Linked DNA regions of Homo sapiens. The protein of the gene in region 2 purifies or fractionates together with the protein of the main gene of each other region. This does not show direct contact. Each region holds a gene or a part of one and is shown on either strand. Other genes may lie near its edges.

Region 1 (7,046 bases), on a different chromosome or scaffold from region 2:
TTTTCTGCTGTTATAGGCACACATCTTCCCGCCTGGACTTTTTTTTCCTTTATTGAATGAGCTAGTATTTTAACCTCACCTGAAAATTGATGGGTGGTGGTGGATTCTTAGGTTCTATCCTTACAACACTGGATTCCACCTTGGGCGGTGGTCTGAAGTTATTCTTTCCCACCTGTTAATGAAAAAGTATTTAAGTAGTACTCACAAAGGCAACTTTTATTTAGTAACCAGATATGCTATCCTCACAGAAGGCACAACTGGATGCTCAAGGATGAATTAAGCTAGATTATTTCAATAATAAAAATCACTGGCTGGGTGCTTTGGCTCACACCTGTAATCCCAACACTTTGGGAGGCCAAGGCAGATGGATCATTGAGCCCAGGAGTTCAAGACCAACCTGGGCAACATAGCAAAACTCTGTGTCTACAAAAAATACCAAAAAATTAGTCAGGCGTGGTGACGCACACCTCTAGTCCCAGCTACTCGGGACTCGAGAAGATTGCTTGAGTATGGGAGGCAGAGATCGCAGTGAGCCACTGCACTGCAGCCTGGGTGACAGAGTGAGATTCTATCTCAGAAAAAAGAGAAAGAAAACAAAATTCACTTACTTTCATTAGATGGTCCACACGTGCCAACAGCTGTGTATTAATTGAGAGTCTGCAGTATAACTTATCTCCAGGTTTTGCAACCAGTCGGAGGGCAAATTCTCTTTGAAACATAAGTATAGCACACCTGAAAAGAAAGCAGAAAGGAATAAGGAAAATGGTCATTGTCAACTATAAATGAATTTTAACTGCAATGAATTTTCTTGGGAGAGAAATAGCAAAGCATTGGCAGCTGATTATAAGGTAGGAGAACACATTCAGCCTTTTTTTTATTGCCACAGAATGAGAGAGCTGGCTTTGTTTTTATAATTGCTGTACTCCTCATGGCAAGATAGCTTGCAAATATAAGCCTTTAATGACTGGATGAGATGTTTCAAATCAGCACTAGTCCATCACCTCTTCTATGAAAACAAAGTGAAATAAAATTGTTTCAGTAGCAGTAATATATTTATGGGGTAGCAAACACCTTTAAGGAAGAGGTGAGACTGAAGAGGCAGATTGTGACGTTCAATGTTTCCTTGATTTGACGGGTTAAAAGATGTAGACTTTTTTTTTTTTTTTGAGACGGAGTTTCGCTCTTGTCGCCCAGGCTGGAGTGCAATGGCGCAATCTCGGCTCACTACAACTTCCGTCTCCCAGGTTCAAGTGATCCTCGTTCCTCAGCCTCCCGAGTAGCTGGGATTACAGGCGCACACTACCACCCCTGGCCAATTTTTCTATTTTTAGTAGAGACAGTGTTTCACCATGTTGGCCAGGCTGGTCTGGAACTCCTGACCTCAGGTGATCCGCCCACCTCAGCCTCCCAAAGTGCTGGGATTACAGGCATGAGTCACCACACCCAGCCAAAAGATGTAGACTTTTTATTCAGCAGGCAATGGGGAAGACTTTGTAGGGGTTAACGAACAGAAGAGTATCTTCAAAGCTACACTTTGACATTCAAACTTTTGACAATGAGTCACACTAAAAATACATTTGGCATTGCAAGCCAAGCCACAAATGTCTGTATGTATATGTGTTTATATTGTATTTCAAAACAAAAGTTTCATGAAACCATAATCACCTGGACTACATGCAATGCCCTGTGATATATTCTATTCCATGTGATTACAAAAAAAAAGAATGGTCATGACTCATTAATTTTATAACCACTAGTTTTTGACTTGCAGTTTGAAAGCCACTAGTATATAATATAGAAAGTGACTTCAAAGTTCATGGAAATATTGAATTAAAAGATAAAATAAGGCTGGTGTGGCGGCACACACCTATAATCCACAGCACTTTAGGAGGCCAAGGCGGACAGATCGCTTGAGCTCAGGAGTTCAAGACCAGCCTGGGCTGAACATGGTGAGACCCCTTCTCTAAAAAAAACACAAAAATTAGCTAGGCATGCTGGTACACCCCCATAGTCCCAGCTACTCAAGAGGCTGAGGTAGGAGAATCATCTGAGCCCAGCCCAGGGAGGCTGAGGTTGCAGTGACCTGAGATGTCACCACTGTACTCCAGCCTGTCTCAGAAAAAGAAAAAAAAGAAAAAACATAAACTTTATTATTCAACATAAGCTCCATCAAGTTCAAGACACTTTTGTAAGTGATGATACCAGCATTTTAGTCTATATCAAAAAAACTGAGGCTCTGGGGAATTTAGCCATGTCACTGCAGGTTTTTTTTTTTTACATTATTAACTGAAGAAAAAAGAGTGCCCTTTCAAGATTTTTTAAGACTGGGAAACGAAAATAAATCAGAAGGGCTGGGCACCATGGTTCATGCCTGTAATAATCCCAGCATTTGGGGAGGCTGAGGTGGGCAGATCACTTGAGCTCAGGAGGGGGAGACAGCCTGGGCAACATGGCAAGACCCATCTCTAAAAAAAATACAACAATTAGCTGGGTGTGGTGGCACATGCCCGTAATCGCAGCTACTTGGGAGGCTGAGGTGGGAGGAATGCTTGAGCCCAGGAAGTGGAGGCTGCAGTGAGTGCAGATCATACCACTGCTCTCCAGCCCGGGCACCAGAGCAAGACTGTCTCATAAAATAAAAAGAAGTCAGAAGGGGCCCAATCAGGACTGTAAGGTGGATACCTAACCATTTCCCATTGAAACTCTCGAAAAATTGCCCTCGTCTGATGAGAGGAAGGAGTAGAAGTATTATGGTGGAGGAATCTCTGGGGAAGCTTTCCCAGGAGTTACTCTGCTACATCTTAGCTAACTTTCTCAAAACACTCTTGTAATAAGCAGATGTTTTCATTCTTTGGTCCTAAAGAAAGTCAGCAAGCAAAATGCCCTGAGCATTCAAAAAAAAACTGTTGCTATGACCTTTGCTCTTGACTGGTCTGCTTTTGCTTTGACTGGAGCCACTCCGTTTCTTGGTAGGCATCACTTTCACTCTGCTTTGTCTTTAGGATCACACTGGTAAAGCCATATTTCATCTCCATTACAATTCTTTGTAATTCTTTGAAGAAATGTTTCAGGATCTTGTTTTCTTTTTTGACAATCTCGCTCTGTTGCCCAGGCTGGAGTGTGGAGTGCAGTGGCACAATCTTGGCTCACTACAACCTCCGCCTCCTGAGTTCAAGCGATTCCCCTGCCTCAGCCTCCCGAGTAGCTGGGATTATAGGTGCCCACCACAATGCCCAGCTAATTTTTTTATTTTTAGTAGAGATGGGGTTTCACCATGTTAGCCAGGCTGGTCTCCTGACCTCAAGTGATCTGCCCGCCTCGGCCTCCCAGAGTGCTAGGATTATAGGTGTGAGCCACTCCACCCAGCCATGTTTCAGGATCTTGATCCCAGTTATGTAAAATTTCCACTGGAAGCTCTGCTTTTATCTGCAGCTGATTTGAGTACAATGTTTTTTGTTTTGTTTTTTCATAAAATCTTTCAGAAAAGAGGGTATGACAGTTTTGGCATCTATCAAGTACAAAGTTTGTTTAACTTTGATTTTGCAGTCAGAATTGTGTAAGCTAAACCAACTGTGATGTCTATGGTGTTGGCTATTGTTTGTGCTGTTGAATGTTGTTCCTCGTCACTTAGGGAACAAACAAGATGAATGTTTTCCCACAAATTGATATGGCCAGTGTGCCACTGTAGGCTTCATCTTCAACATTGTCTCAGCCCTTCTTAAAATGAGTTATCCATTAGTAAACTGCTGATTTCTTTGGGATATTGTCCCCATAAACTTTTTTTTTTTTTTGAGACGGAGTCTCGCTCAGTCGCCAAGGCTGGAGTGCAGTGGCGCGATCTCGGCTCACTGCAAGCTCCGCCTCCCGGGTTCACGCCATTCTCCTGCCTCAGCCTCCCGAGTGGCTGGGACTACAGGCGCCCGCCACTACGCCCGGCTAGTTTTTTGTATTTTTAGTAGATGTGGGGTTTCACCATGTTAGCCAGGATGGTCTCGATCTCCTGACCTCATGATCCGCCTGCCTTGGCCTCCCAAAGTGCTGGGATTACAGGTGTGACTCCATAAACTTTTTGTAAAGCATCAATGATTTCACCATTCTTCCAACCAGGTTTCACCATAAATTGGATGTTTGTTCTTACTTGAATTTTAGCAGAGTTCATGTTGCTCTGATAGGGGCTCTTTTCAAACTGATGTCTTATCCTTCTCAGTGCCTCACACTAGATCCTGCTCAGTTAGTACAGAGTTTATTTTGGTGCAAAAAAATTTTGAAATCCATGCAAGTTTTTTTCATAATACACATTTTCCATGAACTTTTTGAAGACCTCTTATACTAGAGACCAGTTAGGAAACCACTGCAATTGTCTAGACATAAGGTAATAAAAATTCTAACCTAGACTTAACGGCAGGAAGATTCAAAAATAGGGAAAGGCTGTCTGGTCTCAGAAGCAGGACTTCCAGCACACTACCCCCAAATAACCTCTCAATTAAAGAGAGAAAGACCTCCATACAAATCAACATTTTCTACAAAAATTCTTCAGTAGTTTTTCAACTGACCTGACTCATTTTTGGCTATGTTCACCACCTGAACTGTAAGTCTTTCAAAATTTGGCAGTAACTCTAGTCTTTTGTCACAAACCTGAAAAAAGGTCGATGTAGCAACAGCTTGAAGACAAAAGGTGAAGAGATCTGTAAGAGAATTAACTAGTTATTTCCGGGAAAGACACATCAGAGGAACAGTTAGTATGATGTTCCTGAAAATGTGAGGACATACCTGATAAGGCAAATTTGCCACACAAGTATCAAAGAATGGCAAATCTGTTTTCAGCACATCACCCACCAGTACTTGAAGTTTGCTGGCCACAGGCCTGATGAGAAAAGAAGAAATGTAAAAAGAATGTTGTTTCATGAGATTGAAATGCACTTTAATTCTATTATGTATACTCACGTGCCCTGAACTCTTTTGTGAAGTTCAGCTACTAGCCTTGGGTCAAGTTCACAAGCAACAACCTAATTTAAAAAAAATAAAAATTATTTAGGTTAATTATGGAATATAAATCTTTTATTGTTATCCCAACAGGAACTCTTACATGATTTATGTGACAAACTTCTTCTCCCATTTCTACCATCAATATTCCTTTAATTATACTCGCATACTTCAAACAACAAACAAAAATGGGCCGGGTGCAGTGGCTCACGCCTGTAATCCCAGCACTTTGGAAGGCTGGGGTGGGCGAATCATGAGGTCAGGAGTTAAAGGCCAGCCTGGCCAACATGGTGAAACCCCATCTCTACTAAAAATACAAAATATTAGGCCAGGTGCAGTGGCTCACGCCTGTAATCCCAACACTTTGGGAGGCTGAGACAGGCAGATCACCTGAGGTCAGGAGTTCGAAACCAGCCTGGCCAACATGGCGAAACCCCGTCTCTACTAAAAATACAAATTTAGCTGGGTACAGTGATGGGCATCTGTAATCCCAGCTACTCGGGAGGCTGAGGCAGGAGAATTGCTTGAAACTGGGAGGCAGAGGTTGCAGTGAGTCGAGATCGCACCATTGCACTCCAGCTTGGGCAAGAGACAGAGACTCTTGTCTCAAAACAAAAACAAAAACAACACAAAATATTAGCTGGGCCTAGTGGTGGGCGCCTGTAATCCCAGCTACTCAGGAGGCTGAGGCAGGAGAATTGCTTGAACCCTGGAGGCGGAGGTTGCCATGAGCCAAGACTGTGCCACTGCATTCCAGCCTGGGTGACAAAGTGAGACTCCATCTCAAAAAAAAAAAAAAGCCGGGTGTGAGGCTGAGGTGGGCGGATCATGAGTTCAGGAGACTGAGACCAGCCTGGCCAACATGGTAAAACTCTGTCTCTACTAACAAATTCAAAAATTATCTGGGCGTGGCGGCACGTGCCTGTAATCCCAGCTACTCAGGAGGCTGAAGCAGGAGAATTGTTTGAACCAGGGAGTCAGAGGTTGCAGTGAGCCGAGATCGCGCCACAGCACTCCAGCCTGGCAACAGAGCGAGACTCCATCTCAAAAACAAACAAACAAACAAACAAACACCACCACCCAGAAAAGTAGACAACCAGATTATGTGAGAGTTCTACTCATATAATCAATAGAATCATGTTTCATCTGTCTCCATGCTTTGTAATTCAACAGATGATGAAAAAAATACACTACATGTCTCTGCAGTCAGTGTTGTTAGAGAAGAGCGTACAATGCAATTGCTCTTACTGTTAGTATGTCACATCTACTGAGATACACAATACATGGCATAGATAACTTCTCAAGTAAATGAAAATGGATGTCAAATAAGGCCGAAATTGAAATTTTATTGCAATTTCAGCTGAGGTTTCACTGACTTTATTTTTATTAAAAAATAATTTTTTTTAAGAGATGGGGTCTCACTCTGTTGCCCAGGCTGGAGTGAAGTGGCGCTATCATAGCTCACTGCTGCCTCGAAGTCTTGGGCTCATGGGATCCTCCCACCTCACCTTCCTGTGCAGCTGGGACCACAGGTGTGTACCAGCACACCAGGCTAATTTCCTTTCTTTATTTTTAATAGAGACGGGTCTCTCTATGTTGCCCGGGCTGGTCTCAAAACTCCTGGGCTCAAACAATCCTCCCACCTTGGCCTCCCAAAGTGCTGGGATTATAGGCGGGAGGCACCATGCCCAGCCTTTTTATTTTTTATAGAGATTGGGTCTCGCTTTGTTGCCCAGGCTGGTCTCAAGCTCATAGCTTTAAGCAATCTTCCTGCCTCAGCCTCCCAAAGTGCTGGGATTACAGATGTGGGCCACAGCTCCTGGCCCTACTTCTATATAGACCCTGTTTACATGGTAAACAATGTGTTTCTTACTCTGTTTGGCTCCCAGATCTATCTTTAGTTTTATTTTTATTTTTTGAGACAGGGTCTCACTGTGTCACCCAGGCTGTAGTGAAGTGGCAGGATCATGGCTCACTGGAGCCTCAACTTCCCAGGCTCAGGTAAACCTCCCACCTCAGCCTCCCTGCTAGCCAGGGCTACAGTCAGGCACCACCATGCCCAG
Region 2 (3,244 bases):
TACTCGTACATCTCGCTCATCACCATGGCCATCCAGCAGGCGCCCAGCAAGATGCTCACGCTGAGCGAGATCTACCAGTGGATCATGGACCTCTTCCCCTATTACCGGCAGAACCAGCAGCGCTGGCAGAACTCCATCCGCCACTCGCTGTCCTTCAATGACTGCTTCGTCAAGGTGGCACGCTCCCCGGACAAGCCGGGCAAGGGCTCCTACTGGACGCTGCACCCGGACTCCGGCAACATGTTCGAGAACGGCTGCTACTTGCGCCGCCAGAAGCGCTTCAAGTGCGAGAAGCAGCCGGGGGCCGGCGGCGGGGGCGGGAGCGGAAGCGGGGGCAGCGGCGCCAAGGGCGGCCCTGAGAGCCGCAAGGACCCCTCTGGCGCCTCTAACCCCAGCGCCGACTCGCCCCTCCATCGGGGTGTGCACGGGAAGACCGGCCAGCTAGAGGGCGCGCCGGCCCCCGGGCCCGCCGCCAGCCCCCAGACTCTGGACCACAGTGGGGCGACGGCGACAGGGGGCGCCTCGGAGTTGAAGACTCCAGCCTCCTCAACTGCGCCCCCCATAAGCTCCGGGCCCGGGGCGCTGGCCTCTGTGCCCGCCTCTCACCCGGCACACGGCTTGGCACCCCACGAGTCCCAGCTGCACCTGAAAGGGGACCCCCACTACTCCTTCAACCACCCGTTCTCCATCAACAACCTCATGTCCTCCTCGGAGCAGCAGCATAAGCTGGACTTCAAGGCATACGAACAGGCACTGCAATACTCGCCTTACGGCTCTACGTTGCCCGCCAGCCTGCCTCTAGGCAGCGCCTCGGTGACCACCAGGAGCCCCATCGAGCCCTCAGCCCTGGAGCCGGCGTACTACCAAGGTGTGTATTCCAGACCCGTCCTAAACACTTCCTAGCTCCCGGGACTGGGGGGTTTGTCTGGCATAGCCATGCTGGTAGCAAGAGAGAAAAAATCAACAGCAAACAAAACCACACAAACCAAACCGTCAACAGCATAATAAAATCCCAACAACTATTTTTATTTCATTTTTCATGCACAACCTTTCCCCCAGTGCAAAAGACTGTTACTTTATTATTGTATTCAAAATTCATTGTGTATATTACTACAAAGACAACCCCAAACCAATTTTTTTCCTGCGAAGTTTAATGATCCACAAGTGTATATATGAAATTCTCCTCCTTCCTTGCCCCCCTCTCTTTCTTCCCTCTTTCCCCTCCAGACATTCTAGTTTGTGGAGGGTTATTTAAAAAAACAAAAAAGGAAGATGGTCAAGTTTGTAAAATATTTGTTTGTGCTTTTTCCCCCTCCTTACCTGACCCCCTACGAGTTTACAGGTCTGTGGCAATACTCTTAACCATAAGAATTGAAATGGTGAAGAAACAAGTATACACTAGAGGCTCTTAAAAGTATTGAAAGACAATACTGCTGTTATATAGCAAGACATAAACAGATTATAAACATCAGAGCCATTTGCTTCTCAGTTTACATTTCTGATACATGCAGATAGCAGATGTCTTTAAATGAAATACATGTATATTGTGTATGGACTTAATTATGCACATGCTCAGATGTGTAGACATCCTCCGTATATTTACATAACATATAGAGGTAATAGATAGGTGATATACATGATACATTCTCAAGAGTTGCTTGACCGAAAGTTACAAGGACCCCAACCCCTTTGTCCTCTCTACCCACAGATGGCCCTGGGAATCAATTCCTCAGGAATTGCCCTCAAGAACTCTGCTTCTTGCTTTGCAGAGTGCCATGGTCATGTCATTCTGAGGTCACATAACACATAAAATTAGTTTCTATGAGTGTATACCATTTAAAGAATTTTTTTTTCAGTAAAAGGGAATATTACAATGTTGGAGGAGAGATAAGTTATAGGGAGCTGGATTTCAAAACGTGGTCCAAGATTCAAAAATCCTATTGATAGTGGCCATTTTAATCATTGCCATCGTGTGCTTGTTTCATCCAGTGTTATGCACTTTCCACAGTTGGACATGGTGTTAGTATAGCCAGACGGGTTTCATTATTATTTCTCTTTGCTTTCTCAATGTTAATTTATTGCATGGTTTATTCTTTTTCTTTACAGCTGAAATTGCTTTAAATGATGGTTAAAATTACAAATTAAATTGTTAATTTTTATCAATGTGATTGTAATTAAAAATATTTTGATTTAAATAACAAAAATAATACCAGATTTTAAGCCGTGGAAAATGTTCTTGATCATTTGCAGTTAAGGACTTTAAATAAATCAAATGTTAACAAAAGAGCATTTCTGTTATTTTTTTTCACTTAACTAAATCCGAAGTGAATATTTCTGAATACGATATTTTTCAAATTCTAGAACTGAATATAAATGACAAAAATGAAAATAAAATTGTTTTGTCTGTTGTTATAATGAATGTGTAGCTAGTAAAAAGGAGTGAAAGAAATTCAAGTAAAGTGTATAAGTTGATTTAATATTCCAAGAGTTGAGATTTTTAAGATTCTTTATTCCCAGTGATGTTTACTTCATTTTTTTTTTTTTTTTTGACACCGGCTTAAGCCTTCTGTGTTTCCTTTGAGCCTTTTCACTACAAAATCAAATATTAATTTAACTACCTTTCCTCCTTCCCCAATGTATCACTTTTCTTTATCTGAGAATTCTTCCAATGAAAATAAAATATCAGCTGTGGCTGATAGAATTAAGTTGTGTCCAACGGAGACTCATGAACTCTCTTCTCATTAAAAGAGAAACGAAACTTAGCCATCAGGGTAGCTCTGGAGGAGGTGGGAGGAGGGGAGTTAATTCACTCTCGCAGGGGAAGCGTTGTACCGACAGGACATTTTAGGGTAGCCGCTATTTTGCATTTTGTGAAGATTGTTTTAAATTTTGATTCAAAAATGTCGTTCCTAAGAACTTAAAGTTGATAATTTGTTTCCTTCTAAGGAGCTTTTAAATGCAACTTCACACTCCATAGTTGCTTGGGATCACAAAATCATTAATCTCCTTTGATAGCAGGCTCACTTTCCAGTCCACCTATTTCTTTGTAAGTCTTGTTCGGATTGACATCAACAATAACAACACCAGCTCAAGCAGAGGCCTGCCTGCCTGAGCCCTTGTGTATGAACTCCATCCTCACCAGGGCTTGAACTTGGACAGCCTTTACTTTGATCGCCCCACTCCACACCGCGGACAAGATAAAAAGAGCCGTGTGAGTCGCTTAATTATCGCGTAATTGCCTCCC
Region 3 (7,046 bases), on a different chromosome or scaffold from region 2:
CTCAAAAACAAACAAAAAAAACCTTAAAAGCCTATCTGAGTGTTAAGACTGGGCTTATACACGCCCTTTCTCACCTACAGATTTTCCTTCCAGAACTCTTTTTCTATTCAAAACCTAAAAGATTTTATTTTGACTGGGAAAACTAGGTCATTAGCAAGGAGATTCAAAATCTTTCAAGAAAGAATTGTGAAGACAATGTTCTCAGTATCTTCTCGATTCTTCCTTTTGTACACAAACTCAAATGGTAAGAATTACAAGTTAGATTTTTCTCACTGGAATGGGAAAAAAAGCATAAAAATGTGTCTTCTGTATTTTTAGAAATAATAAAAATATTCTTTAAATATACTAGAAAGAAAGAAAAACCAACAAAAAAGTATACTATAAAACAGACACATCTGTAAAGGAAGTAAAAACAGTCAATGTTATATTGAGGTTGCAAGTTGACAAGAGGCCAAGATGAATGGGATACAAGAGACTGATTTGAGAGGATACGATAATCAAAGATATTTCAATACATGAAAAATAAAACTGTTGAAATCTATGAAAACTGTTAATAACAAATTAATTCTAATTTTAAAACATGGAGCACAGAGGCATAAGCTATAAATTAGACTGTATCAATATAAGAAAAAAACTGAGGATGTCATCCAGACAGGAGGAAAAATAATCAAAATAAACTAATACTTTAGTAATAATTACAGATAGTATGCTGATTATGATAAACTAGGTAAGGTAAATACTTAACAGTTAAGCTCCAAATAATCTAAGTAAATGCTGAGATCTGTTATGAATTTATCTGATGACTGACTTCTTTTTTCCTGACTACACAAGTTAGAGACTCACAGTAATCACTGTCAAACATCACTATTTCATAAGAGCAACTGAAAAGAGTAAAATGATTTTGAATAAAAGGTTGAGATCCAGAGTTTTATACAATCAAATTTTCAAGCATGCAGTATTTCCAAGTATGTTTTCTGTAAACTCCAGTTTTACGAAATGCTCTTTAAAAAGGGGGTCTTATAAGTCAAATAGGTTAGGTAATCGCTGCAAAATTTTGGTATTTACACTGCACATTACTCAAAAATCAAAGTTTCTGAGAAGTTCTGCAATAAATAACCTATCTAACATTAATAACTGAAGCACTGCCCACATCTACTTGATTCTACAGTATTTATTATCATTCCATTAAACATTTAAAACATACTTTAATAAACATTAAGGTATTCTGGTCTCCATTTTTATGTTTTATCTTGAGAGGCAGTTTTAACTATTATTCCTCACTAAGGACATAACAGATGGGAGAAAAAAAAATTAGGCTTCATAACATGTCTAGTCAGAGGTTAGAAAGTGAAATAAGTTAAAATGAACACTGGGATAACTAAAAATTACGTGTAGGTAGACTATTCTTTTACTTTATAATCAAAGTACAACACTGGTTCAAAACAGAGAAACAATGAAAACATAAAGCCAAGTTAAAAAGGAACTAGATCTCCATCCCTTAAGATTTCTACTAACACTCTTGGAAACTCCACAATCATGAAGATAATCCTCTGCCAGTGGTAAACTAAGCTTTCAAGTTTGAAGTAATTTTTCCTTTTTAACTTTTGTGTGGAATGTTCCTTGTCCAAATTAACTATCTGCATATTCAGGTGTAATCTCAAATGTCACCTCCACCAAAAGGTCTTCCCTTATCATTTCATCTAAACTTAGCTTTCTCAGCTCCAACTTCATCAAACATTATTACACTGTTTTGACTTCTTCATTTATTTGATTACCAGTAGAATCCAGTGCCTAGAATAGCGCCAGACACATAGTGGATGCTCAACAATTACCTGTTGAATGAATTAACACTATTTTAGCATAGTAGCTTTCCATTTGTTTTATACACCAATCACGGTTAAAAAAGGGTAGCAAAAACAGGAACTAATACTCATGTTTATTATTTCAGTTTGAAAAAAATGAATGTAGCACTTTGCAACTTAACTTTTTTTTTAAGTTGCAACTTTGCAACTTAATTTGCAGCTTTGCAAATTAATGGAAAGTTGCCTACTCTGTGTGTGCAATATTGTTTATGTGTATGTCAAAGGTTCTTCTCTTCAACTCAAAGAAGGCATACAATTTCTAGATGGTTTGAGTAAATAAGAGTAAAAACAATCCTGAAGATATCTTTTCAGCATTAATATAACAGAAGGCCAGTCTTACCTCTAAAAAATAAAACCTGTTTAAAGTTTTGAAAAACCCTTAACTTCTGAAATGAACATGAGTTATTTCAGTTAAAATTTAGCAGACTGAACATGAGGACTATTCCAGAGTACCAGAATAACTGAGAAGTTAAATGACCAGAAGAAAAGTAATTAAGGTGAATTCTAAATACGAAACACAACAGGAAAAAGTGACTACCCGAGCCTCCATTTCTTTATTCATTCATCTTGTATGAATGTTACAGTTCTTATATACCTATCTACTGTTCATAGAGTTGAACAGCTACCTTAATGGGTAAACTAACAGAGATGAAGATTGGCATTTGAGAATATCTAGATCCAGGGCCTTTAAACAGTAAAGTGGGATTGATCTTCGGATCAAATTATCCAGAATGTAGTTTTAATCTCTCCACAGCTGCACAACCACAAAACATGCCAATAAGTCAACTTCTAGTTTAAAACATTTACACACGAGGCAGGCGGATCACTTGAGGCCAGGAGCTCGAATCCAGCCTGGCTAAACCCTGTCTTTACTCAACAAACAAAAAAAAGACGTCTACCCAAAGGTCATCTACTTTTCTCTCCAAAAGGGGCTCCAAATTTCCACCTTTCTTCAAGTTCGCCTCAAGGCAACCCATAGTGATTTCTTTGGACACGTAAGGTAATTTCAGCTCTGACAAAAGCAGGTTGCTTTTTGTTTTAATCAGAATGCTCTAGACTTGTTACCTGTCTCTATATTTTCTCCACATCATAAAATCTCCAAATTGATCTCTGAATAAGAAATGTGAGACCTTCCATTTTTGGCAGACATAACCTATTTTCTAAGTAACAACAACAGGAACAAAAAACTTGCTAGACAAAATAATCATGCCAAGGTTTCTAAATAAAAAAAAAAAAATGCCAGGTATGAAAAACCTCTGCCTGCTATACTATGAAATATTAGACTCACATTCCAAAATTCAGAGAAATAAGAAACCTTAGCATTGAAACCTAATTATTTACAAAGCAGCCACCACCAATGCAAGTTATTGGTTCTTAAATTACACTATCATTCTTCCATATGGCACAAAATCCAGGCTTTAAACTTGCCTTATACGTTCTCGAAGAATTATTTATCAAGAACAGAAAAACCTTAAGATTCTCATGTACATGTAATACATACACTGATATATAAAATGCATATACATATATTCTTTTATAGAAATAGTAGCAGGCTATAAGCAGACCTTAAAAGCTATGGATACTAGGTGGATTCTAGGAGTTTGGAAACTGGCTGTGTCAAGCCTGGGTCAAGGTCACACGTAATAAAAGAAATGTGCCTAAAAGTATATTTGTTCAGTTTTAAGGAGGATGCTGTGTGTTTGAATTTAACATCAAGGAACACAGCCAAAAACTAGAAAAAAACAAAAATGAAACGAATAAGCAACTGGTCCAACACGTTAGGGCAATTTTAATAACCTAATCTGCAAAGCCAGAATAAAGTATTTTAAAAGTTATTGAAAAAGTGAACATTAGCTTCCTGTCATAATCCAGGAAAACAGAAAACTATAATACATACATCTGGTGTGCTAACACTCAAACTTAAAGGAAAATGACCTAATATTGACCTAATTTAATTATTCACCAGGCTGAATTCTTAGAACACTCAGCATTCTTCACCCTGTAATTTTAATCTGTATTTCTACTAGCATAAAAATTTTTGCCTTCACTTTACTCTGTATACTGTGTATCATTCCAGTCTGTTACCTCATTTAAAAATAAAAGGCTTAAAAAAGTTACTATAAATTACCATCAAACAATCTGATTTGCCTTTATTAGGTTTCTAAATAATGCCAATATACTCTATTATCCAAACGTGCTGTCGTCTAAATATTTTCTAACTCCAGTAATTTTTTACCAAATAAAAATTCCTTTTAAATGGGAACCAATTTGAATGATGAGGCTTTCTAACAGATTAAAAGATAATCAGTGTAATGTACGCTAGAGGTAAGGATGACCAAGTCTTACCTTTATCAGTTGTTACTTTTTCTATGCATCTGAAAGAAATAAGAATCAAACATTAATGAACAATCTAGCACATTTTCTGAAAATATAAATATCTCTTTCAGGTTCACCTCCAGAGTGATAAAGAAAGCATCTAGACTAGTGTTGTCCTACAGAATTTTCAGCAGTGATGGAAACATATCTGCACTGTCCAATATGGCAGTCACATGTGGCTACTGAGCACTTGAAACAGTTCATGTAATTGTGAAACTGAATTTTTAATTTTGATTAATGTAAATTTAAATAGCCACATGTGGCTACATAACTGACAGCACAGAGCTAGAATATCATTCAAAACACCTATTTTTAACTAAGATATTGATACAAAGAAAATATTACTAATTTTGTTACATTAAGTGATTATATAAGAAAATGTTCTTATTTTATATAAATGTACTAACTAGAGATGAAATGATGTTTGGGATGTGCTCCAAAATACTTCTGCCAAAACAGGGAGGATGGACATAGCAAGCATGGCAAAATCTCAGCTAGGTGATCAATACTGGGGTTTCATTATACTATTTTCCCTATTTTGTGTATATTTAACAATTTTCATAATAAAAACTCAATGAAGTGTTAAAAAGACCCTAAAATTGTTTGTTAAGACCAAATCAAAATCTACTTGTAAAAAGACAATAGGTGGACCTCACAAGTAAATGTAACTTGCCCTTTACAAATTAAAAAGCAACAGTAAAGAGCTTAAAAATTGTTATAGCCTGAAGATTTTTTTAAAAACCCCCAAAACAACAAAAATCAGACATATCCCCAGGTTTTTCATTCAGAAAAATTTCTCTCATACGTAACTGGTGAGGACAGTATAATGAACTTCCTATACTTACTACTAAAATTCAAAAGTCAACAGGCCCTGAACATTTATCATATAGATACCACAGAGTATCTCTGAACAGTACAAAGTTTTTTTGTTGTTGCTCCTCCCAAAAGTAAACCTAATATAGTAAAGACTCTATTATGTTACAATATGTTATAAATAAATACCCAGACAAATACAGAAGCCACAGTGTAATACAAAAATCTATTCTACTTAGAAACAATAGTTATCACTGTTTGTTCCATACTTTTTTAAAAAAGACTGGTATTATAATTTTATTTTAAATCACATTACCAATGTCCCAATTAACACACCATAACTGCTAATCATCCCATCTTTAAATAAAAACTGCAGAAATAATTGCTAAATTTTTGAAAAATTATATAACAAACTTTTCCAAAAACCTTGAAAGTTGGTTCAATGTTTCTATCATCATACTGATTAAGATCCTGATCACAGGATTTCAGTCTTGTACAACTGAAGGCTTCTCCAAAGAACTGTAAGTTTTTTCAATTCAGAATATTACCACCTCTTCATCCTCACTATCCATGACCTTCAAAAGGGAAACAGCAAGAAAGGTCACCTAAAGGTTTATTACTGTTTTAATTTTAGCAAGAAAATATACCAAAAATGGAATTTCACATACTAGAAAATAAAACTACTTTCCTTAATCTGAACCTGAAGGAAGACATCTAAAAATACTCAGTATTAGCTAATATGGTTACTCAACAGCGAAGTTAGAATTTTTAAAAAGTATTTGTCCCTAAAGTTTTAAGTTTTGAAATGCACAGGATAAATGAAGGGCTATTACATGTAAGAATGAAAAAAAGCCTTATACATTTTAACCTAGTCTTAATTTGACAATTTCATTCCCTACTAGCAGAACGCATGGATGAATCAGAAAAAAATCATAGGCAAAAACTAGTATACTAATGCTACTAGATTTTACTTCAAAAATTAAAGACAGTATATAAACGTGCACTTGAAATAACTGTAATTTACTGGCTAACATACAGCAAATGATCAGTCTTACTCTTAGTATGGATACATAAACTTTCTTCAAATTTGGTTTATTTTTCCTACTAGCTTTCTATGCTTCAATTTATCATGATTCTAGCATTTAACTCTGTGCTTCTCTTGAGCACAATGAAAAATTTTTATTTCCCCTTCATCCACAAATATTTCCTCTTCCCAATAACCCCTAAATAGTTCATTGTGAAAAGAAGTTGTTATAAACATCAGATTATAAAAACTGTAAGCTAAATATGTCATCTCGCAAATTCATAAAATATCAATTATAAATGAAGCAATTATAAATGAAGAGGTTAAGTGACTTGCTCAAGGCCACTTACTGCACAGTACAAAGCTGGAACATAAAACTTTCTGACTAAAGTCCAATGCTTTATCCACTCTATTATTTTGCCTTCCAATGGGAACAGAGGTTTCAACCAATCCAAATCTATCTATTTCTTGACCTTTTAAACTATGGTATACTTTACTATCACTTTAATTAAGAAAATCAAATGTAGGTTAAACAGCTGATTACTAAGATTGTATACAGGGAAATGCTGGGATATGGAAAAAGGACTAGCGCGAACAAGTAAGTAATACAGAATAAACCTTCCTTTTTAAAATTTTCAAAATGTCATTTGGAAAACAGAAATGACTCAAAGTCAAAGATACCAGACCAGGGTTTGGACTCAAAACCTCTTGAAATATCTTAAAGGATTAAATTATGTAGAAAAAATTAAGTCTTAAAATGTATTTTATGACTGAAAATCTGTATACCATACACACATTTGACATATCTCCACTAATTAATGCATCTTTGCCTTACACCCCAAGGTCCTTGAAGATGAGGGCCATGTCTCATTTTTCTTTCTACCACCTAGTTCAGCATAGTACCAGGCCCAGATACTGATGAAACAAGTTTGCCAAGCTAAAATGCTTTAGCATTCCTCTGATTTCCAGAT

The links.
Region 1: the proteins of FOXA1 (region 2) and DIMT1 purify together in Homo sapiens (affinity purification with mass spectrometry, with the first as the bait; 2 studies listed by BioGRID). This does not show direct contact.
Region 3: the proteins of FOXA1 (region 2) and ZFP91 purify together in Homo sapiens (affinity purification with western blotting; 2 studies listed by BioGRID, with this or other methods). This does not show direct contact.

What each region holds. Positions count from the first base shown.
Region 1 is NC_000005.10:62,393,876-62,400,921, forward strand, and holds part of DIMT1 (dimethyladenosine transferase), read right to left. Parts: intron 5,007-7,046; coding exon 4,945-5,006; intron 4,865-4,944; coding exon 4,771-4,864; intron 4,686-4,770; coding exon 4,636-4,685; exon of another isoform or gene 4,554-4,635; intron 733-4,553; coding exon 609-732; intron 173-608; coding exon 80-172; intron 1-79. UniProt on the Homo sapiens protein: Specifically dimethylates two adjacent adenosines in the loop of a conserved hairpin near the 3'-end of 18S rRNA in the 40S particle.
Region 2 is NC_000014.9:37,589,024-37,592,267, reverse strand, and holds the end of FOXA1 (hepatocyte nuclear factor 3-alpha), read left to right. Parts: coding exon 1-903; 3' UTR 904-2,716; downstream 2,717-3,244. UniProt on the Homo sapiens protein: Transcription factor that is involved in embryonic development, establishment of tissue-specific gene expression and regulation of gene expression in differentiated tissues.
Region 3 is NC_000011.10:58,582,047-58,589,092, reverse strand, and holds part of ZFP91 (E3 ubiquitin-protein ligase ZFP91), read right to left. Parts: intron 4,238-7,046; coding exon 4,209-4,237; intron 1-4,208. UniProt on the Homo sapiens protein: Atypical E3 ubiquitin-protein ligase that mediates 'Lys-63'-linked ubiquitination of MAP3K14/NIK, leading to stabilize and activate MAP3K14/NIK. It thereby acts as an activator of the non-canonical NF-kappa-B2/NFKB2 pathway.